Linked DNA regions of Homo sapiens. The protein of the gene in region 2 purifies or fractionates together with the protein of the main gene of each other region. This does not show direct contact. Each region holds a gene or a part of one and is shown on either strand. Other genes may lie near its edges.

What was found. Proteins that work in one complex are often made in the same cells at the same time.
Region 1: the proteins of USP47 (region 2) and PLS1 purify together in Homo sapiens (affinity purification with mass spectrometry; 2 studies listed by BioGRID and IntAct, with this or other methods). This does not show direct contact.

The regions. Positions count from the first base shown.
Region 1 is NC_000003.12:142,686,886-142,690,823, reverse strand, and holds part of PLS1 (plastin-1), read right to left. Parts: intron 1,207-3,938; coding exon 1,011-1,206; intron 1-1,010. UniProt on the Homo sapiens protein: Actin-bundling protein. In the inner ear, it is required for stereocilia formation. Mediates liquid packing of actin filaments that is necessary for stereocilia to grow to their proper dimensions.
Region 2 is NC_000011.10:11,848,029-11,852,304, reverse strand, and holds part of USP47 (ubiquitin carboxyl-terminal hydrolase 47), read right to left. Parts: intron 1-4,276. UniProt on the Homo sapiens protein: Ubiquitin-specific protease that specifically deubiquitinates monoubiquitinated DNA polymerase beta (POLB), stabilizing POLB thereby playing a role in base-excision repair (BER). Acts as a regulator of cell growth and genome integrity.

The sequences.
Region 1 (3,938 bases), on a different chromosome or scaffold from region 2:
GAAAAAAAGAAAGGCTGGGAAACAAATGAGTAAGAACTGGGTATTGAGAATGTTTTGTTATTATGATTCATATACTGTAAGCTTCAATGAGGTTCAGTAAATATAACATAGCTAATTGATACAAAATAATATGTTATAGAACCTAAATGAATCCTTTCAAAGATTACTTGACATTTTGTCACAGGAGAAGGATAAAGATTTTACATCAAATCATGAATTCCAGTTCTCAAAATTGAGTTCTAATGTGTTTACAACTACAATATCCCATCATTATAGAAGGCAAATTAGGTAGAAATTTTACAAAATCAAAGCTTTGTTCTGCTATTCTAATTAAGTTTTATTTGTGTTTCATTCTATGGGCATATTAAGAGAGAAATAACACAGCATGAACAATGCAAAAAGTAAAATATCAACCCAGATGGAAAGAATAAATGGTACTAATAAAAAGAACATTCAGAATGAATATATTTATAGAGTATAGAAAAGTACTAAATACAGTACCTACATTAGGAGGGGTCAAATCTGCATTTCATGAAGCAAAACAGGAAAGTATTATATATTATGAGACAGATAACGATAGACCACACAAAAGACAAATAACGAACACTGTAATTTTTTTCATGTACACTAAAAACCTTAAAAAGAGAACAATACTAGAGTCAAACTGGACCTTTCAAAGGAGAAAAACACCTACAAATAATTATTTTATTCTAATAGATAATTCATTGTCCATGTTGGTGGTAGAGCTGTTATGTGATCATTTATGAGAATATTTTAAATGTATGATAGTTTTCACTAACCTCTTATGGAGAAATAAAAGATTTACCCCAGCATTCTCTTTTAACCAAAACCAGCAACCACCTTCCATAATTTTAATTTTTCAATAGATACACATACCTACACACACTAAATTGCATTTCCCACCACAATCCCCTATCTCTGACAGTGAAGTAAGACAATACCATAAGAAGATAAATATAGCAAGTCAATTAAAGGCAGAAAGAACGCACCTTCCAGTAAATTCATATCGATGTCATTATTATTCGGCTTGTGCAGGCACGGGTATGTGTTAAACAAATTAGCTACAAAAGCTAAATTAAGTTTAGGATTGCCTGAAACCACATCTGCAGGAGTAACAAACTGTTTGCAGCCCAGTTTATCTGCTTCTTGAAGCATGAGTCCAGCACGCTTCAGGTCATTTGTCTCCTAAACAATAAAACAAAAATGGTTACAATTGAAGTTTTAATTGGCATAATTTTTATTGGTATACATGTTTATAAGCAATTACTTTTCCACAAATATATCAAATAATAACTCAAAATAAGATCAAAATGTGTAGTAATTCCAAGTCAACTTACCCATTCCTTTATTTATTTATTTATTTATTTATTTATGTATTTAGAGACAGAGTCTTGCTCTGTTCCCCAGGCTGGAGTGCAGTGGCGTGATCTTGGCTCACTGCAACCTCTGCCTCTTAGGTTCAAGTGATTCTCCTCCCTCAGCCCCTGAGTAGCTGGGATTACAGACACATGCCACTATGCCCAGCTAATTTTTGTATTTTTAGTAAAGACAGGGTTTTGCCATGTTGGCCAGGCTGGTTTCGAACTCCTGATCCGCCCACCTCGGCCTCCCAAAGTGCTGGGATTATAGCCGTGAGCCACTAAGCCCAGCCCCCGTGCCTTTTAAGTTAAAAGGAAAAAAGTCTCTGAATTTCCTTGCTGGGATAACTGAGTTATATTTTACCCTTTTTGCTAAAATACTCAGCAAAATCCTCAAATATTGTATCAGTAAGCTCCTACTGGTTGCACTATAGATAACTTATTCAAGACCAGCTAGTAGAGTGCCCTCTGGATAACAGGCATAGTTATCATACCCACTGTACACTGAGTGACATTTCCAGAAGGCTCTTCTTGATGAAAAACAAGTTGAAATACATATTTTAAAAATTAAAATCATAGGGAAAAGCACCTTTCACAATTGCAAAACCCTGGAAACAAATGAAACAACCCAAATACCTATAAACAGGAGAGTAGATGAATGAATTTGTATATTCACACAATGACATCCAATATGGGTAACTCTTAGAGATACAAGGCCAAAAAGAAGTACTAGAAATTTAAGTATAACATGATAAACTTTAAAGGAAGTTAAAAAGTAAAATGAAGAATTTAATTTTGTAAGGGATACATTTGGATGAAGGGAAACTACATAAAAAGAAAAGCAGAACAACAATGAACACAAGATTCAAGACTGTGGTTACCACACTGGGCGAAAACCGAGGTGGGATAGGGAAGAACTGTACAGAAAATGTCACGTCAAAGTTTTAGTTTTCCTGTTAGATTGAGAGTTCATGAGGCTTGTTACAATTTCAAAACAAACAACCACACACAAAAATAAATTTAAAAATGGGTATGCACAGACCCATATGAGTATATCATGACCAAAGATAACCTACCTAATTCTGTGCACCAGAGTTGCAAAATAATTAATCATATAAATGAAATCAGAGAAAGCAACAGATTATTAAATTAACAAAGAAAAGTTACCATTGTAGACATCAAAAAATGACAATATGTGGCTGGACGTGGTGGCTCATGCCTGTAATCCCAGCACTTTGGGAGGCAGAGGCAGGCGGATCACTTGAGGTCAGGAGTTTGATACCAGCCTAGCCAACATGGTGAAACCCCGTCTCTACTAAAAACACAAAAATTAACCAGGTGTGGTGGTGTGCACCTGTAATCCCAGCTACTCAGGAAGTGGAGGTAGGAGAATCACTTGAGCCCAGGAGGCGGAGGTTGCCATGAGCCAAGATTGTGTCACTGCACTCCAGCCTGGGCGACAGAGCAAGACTCCATCTAAAAAAAAAAAAAAACAAACAAATAAAGACAACATGTGGACCTTATTTTAGATCCTAATTCAAATAAACTATGAAAAAAATGGCATTTATGAGGCAAGTGGAAATGTCAACATTGACTAGATATTTTGATGATGTTACAGATTGTTGTAATTTTTTTAAGGTATGATAAGGTATTGTGGTTTTATTTTAAAAGTGTCTTTGTCTTTTAGAAATATATATTGAAATATTTATCCATGAAGTAATGTCTAGGATTTGCTTCAAAATAATATAGGAGAGGAGAGAAATAGGGAATAAACGAGATAAGATTGACCATGAATTGGCAGATGTTGAAACTGAGGGATGAGTACCTGATAGTTTAGTATACTAAGTCTGTTCTCTTGAATATATTCAAAATTTTCCATAAGTTTAAGTTCCTAATTTTTTTACTTAAAATGATTTGCACATTTTACAGAGCGTTGCAATACTGTGTTTCTGAAATATGTCATTATAATAATGTGAGATATAATTAATTAGTAATGACTCAAGTTGCCTTTAAAACCAAATGTTACGGACGCCGCACTTTAAGTACGTGATATATTTTCATACAGTCTATTATCTGACCAAATTTTAATGTTTAGAATTCAAGTTTGTCCAACCCACGGCCGGTGGGTCACATGCGGCCCAGGACAGCTTTGAATGTGGCCCAACACAAATTTGTAAACTTTCTTAAAACACTAGATTTTTTTGCACCTTTTTTTTTTTTTTAGCTCATCAGCTATTGTTAGTGTTAGTGTATTTTATGTGTGGCCCAAGACAATTCTTCTTCTAATGTGGCCCAGGGAAGCCAAAAGACTGGACATCCTGATTTAGATAGAACCATCCCTGGTATTTATAACTTATGCTAAAAGAATGAGATTCCTAGGAAGTATGCTTGGTAGGTCAGAATCTGTATCAGTCCTTCCTACACCATGAATATCTATTTTTATTTTGTAGATTTCTAAATATAAGCTGGTAAAACTGATAATTGATTGCTTAAAAATCTAACAACAGGTTGTTGCTTCCTTTCCTGGCATATGCTGACAGTCAAAAGAGCACCCTGGTG
Region 2 (4,276 bases):
ATGGGGGTGGGGGGAAGGACAAATTCTCCTCACAGAAGAATTTAAATTAATAAATGTAGAAATAATGAGAGAAATAGAAAATCACTATTATTAAGCCACAGTAATAATTGCTGCAGGCAAGATCACAGATAGATGATAAAATTAGTGGGCAGAAATTTAGGGGGAAATAGGTTATCTGCATGGTCTCAAAGAATTTGATTTTTAAAAGCTATTTTATTTTTAAAGTTTGACCTGCCTGGCTGAGTAACTTTAAATCAAAGTACTTAATAATTATTAAAGGGAAAAATAGTAACTTCACAGTGGAGAAACCTAGCAGACACCCTCTTACCCAAGTGATCAAGGTTAACATCACCAGTAGTACGTATCAGCATCATGCCCCCCTACCAACATAATGCACTAAGAAGAACACATCCCATCTGTGATAATCCTTCTTTTTATTCATAACCTCAATCTATTCATGAGAGAGCATCCACAAACCCAAATTGAGAGCCATTCCATGAAATAACTGACCAGTACTCTTCAAAAGTGTCAAGATCTTGAAAATGAAGACTGAAAAATTATCACAGATAAAAGGAAACTAGGAGATATGATAACCAAATGCAATGTGGTATCCTAAATTTGGATCTTGAAACAAACAAAAACTATAAGAGGGAAAACTGGTAAAATCTGAATAAATTCTGTAGTGTAGTTAATAATATTATACTAAGGTTAATTTCTTCTGATCATCGTTCTATGGTTATATAAGATGTTAAGATAAAAAGAAGCTGGATGAAGGGTATACGGAAACTTTGTACTCTTTCCGCAATTCTTGTGTAAATACATTAAAGCAAACAAACAAAAAAATAAACTAAGGGGCTCAGGAACTGGAAGTTTCAGACACTTTGGGAACGAGAGTGGAGTCCAAACTAGAACTGACCAAAATCTAAGAAGTAGTGAAAATCCCCAGACCTCCTCTTCTACTCTTCAACCCTTTCTGATAAAAGACTAAACAATCTCTAGAGAGCATATAACAGGATATATCTAGACTAGAGGACAACATGCTCAATTGAATTTGAAGGGTGCCATAATGAAAACTGGGGAATTAGGTTAATCTGCATGCTTAAAGATGAGACCCATATCCCCTTTTCCTACTCAGCTCTCAAGCTTGTTCTCTCCTGGCAAAAGATGAGAAATTTTGTCTGGGAAAACAATCCAGCACAAAAGAAAAGATGTGTCACTGGGTGCCCTGGTCTAAATGCCTATGTCTCCTTACCCCAAAATTCACATGTTGAACCCTACTTGCCAATATGATGATATTAGGAAGTGGGATCTTTGGATGGTGACTGGATCAAGAAGGCAGGGCCCTCATAAATGAGATTAGTGCCCTTGTAAAAGAGGCCCCAGAGAGCTGCCTTGTCTCCTTCCACCATGTGAGGACACAGCGAGACGGTGCTGCTCTGTGAACCAGAAAGCAGGCTTTTACCAGACACCAAATCTGCCGGCACCTTTATCTTGGACTTCCCAGCCTCACTCACAGGAACTGTGAAAAATAAATTTCTGTGGATTATAAGCCACCCAGTTTATGGTATTTTGTTTTTGCAGCCCAAATGGACTAAGACTGGGAGTCTGCAAGGAAATCATCCAGATTTACCATCCTACACAAAAAACCATAATCACACAAAAGCAGAGCTTCCATTCAGCTTAGGGCCTCTCTCTTAAATAAGCACAGACTGCCAAGGATCATGAGACATCTAAGGAAAGCAACAAATATGAAAGATAAAGACCAAAGCAAACAAACAGAAAAAGGAAATTTGGAAGAAAAAGAATATGCAGACAAAAAAAAAAAAAACTACCAATATTTCCTAAGAGAGATAAGACACTGCATCCATAAAACAAATATAGGATTTTTTTTTCAAAAAAAGGAATGGAAACTATACATATTATAGCAGAAATAAGAACTTAGTAGAAAAACTGGAAGACAAAGTTGAGAAAAATCTCCCAGAAAGCAAAGAAAAAAAATGTAAAGAAATGGAAAATAGATGAAAATAGACAAGAAAATTAGAGAAACCCATCAGTAGGCCCAACATCTAACAACAGGAATTCAAAAGAGAGAGGAGAGATAAAATGAAGGAGAGGAAATCAAAGAAATTATTTAAGGAAAATTTGCAGAATTTATGAGATAAATTCCAGATTGAACAGGATTAGCAGAATGAATTAAAAAAACAGACATATAACTACATAATACAAGAATTTCAGAACTCTGGGGACAAAGATTCTCTCTCTAGCTCGCAAAGAGAAAAAAAGAAAGTTTCAAAATAGTTGAAAAGGATGTTCTAAGCATCTGATCTCAACATCGACACAGAAAAATAGAAGACAGTAGAGCAATGCCTTCAAAATTCTGAGAAAAAATTATTTCTGACTCAGAGTTCTCTGCCCAGCCAAACTATCCATAAAACAAGAGGGGAGAAAAAACATTTACAGACATGTATAGTCTTGAAAAAATTCTATCCCATCCAGAGAACTATTGAAAGTGGCCCTTCAAAATGAGAAAGTAAACAAAGACAGCCAAAGATACCAGATACAGAAACAGGGGCTCCAAAACAAGACAGAACTGAGAGAATCATAAAGATGACAGTAAAGCAAGTCCAAGACAACAGCTGCACAAAAGTTCTAGCTTTAACAAGTTCAAACTGGAGTAGGTCAGAAGGCCCTGGGAAAGAGCTTCTCACGAAGTCAAAATTGGTAGGTTTGAAGATAAGCCATTTATACACTTGAGAGATAGTTTGGGCTAAATCAGGGTTTCTCAACAACAGCTCTACTGACATTGTGGGCCTTCTAATTCTTTGTTACAGGAGGCTGTCTTGTGCAGTGCAGAAGAATATTTGGCAGCATACCTGGCTTCTACCCACTAGATGTCAGTAGCACACACCCGCACTCTCCTCCCCTCCCCCAACATTGCCAAATGTCCTCTGGAGAGAAAATGGGCCCCAATTGATAACCACTTGGCTAATTTAATAAGTATACAGAAAACTAAGCAAAGCAAAATTGTTAAAAATTACTAACTCTGGCCTAGCTAACATGGTGAAAATGGAGTCATTATAAACTGAAATACTGATGTATACAGGCTGGGCATGGTGGCTCACGCCTATAGCCCTAGTACTTTGGGAGGCTGAGGCAGGAGGATTGCTTAAGCCCAGGAGTTCAAGACCAGCTTGTGCAATAATAGTGAAACTCCATCTCTATGAAATGCGGATGTATCCAAACGACTTGCAGTATGACAATATTGGGAGTACTGGGCAGGGTTAAAATGTGTGCTTGTGTGTGGTTGGGGATAGTGGTAAACCCTCATTTTTACTTAAACTGAAAAATATCTTAAACTGAAAAATCAAGAAGTAACACTATAAAAACGCTAGTTTCGGCTGGGCATGGTGGCTCACGCCTGTAATCCCAGCACTTTGGGAGGCCGAGGCAGGCGTATCACGAGGTCAAGAGATCAAGACCATCCTGGCTAACACTGTGAAACCCCATCTCTACTAAAAATACAAAAAATTAGCCAGGTGTGGTGGCGCGCGTCTGTAGTCTCAGCTACTCAGGAGGCTGAGGCAGGAGAATCGCTTGAACCCGGGAGGCAGAGGTTGCAATGAGGTGATATCGCACCACTGCACTCCAGCCTGGGTGACAGAGTGAGACTCCGTCTCAAAAAAAAAAAAAAAAAAAATGCCAGTTTCAAATATGGAAGTAAGTATCAAAAGAATGAGTTGAAAGCAGTTGCCCCTAGGCAGCCTGAAATGAGGGGAAATTTGCAGAGACCTACTGTTTTTGTAAATATAGTCATGTGCCATATAAAGACATTTTGGTCAACAATCACAAAGATGACAGTGGTCCCATAAGATTACAAATACCATATTTTTACTGTACCTTCTGTATGTTTGAACACACAAAGACTTATGATGTATTACAACTGCCTACAGTATTCAGTACAGTAACATGCTGTAGCCTAGGAGCAACAGGCAATGCCATATAGCCTAGGTGTGTAGCAGGCTAAACCATCTAGGTTTGTGCAAGCACACTGTATCATGTTCAAATGATGTCTAATGATACATTTCTCAGAATAGGTCCTCATCATTAAGTGACAAGTGACTATAGTTCTGCAGAGCTATTTAACTCTTATAAATATATGCATGTATTAAACATAACTTTGATAAAAATTAAATTTAAAAAATCAACTGAATCCATATTATCAAGGACTTTCCTACTGGTTAAAGCTACCTTGATTTAGAATCAAATAGCTATGTAA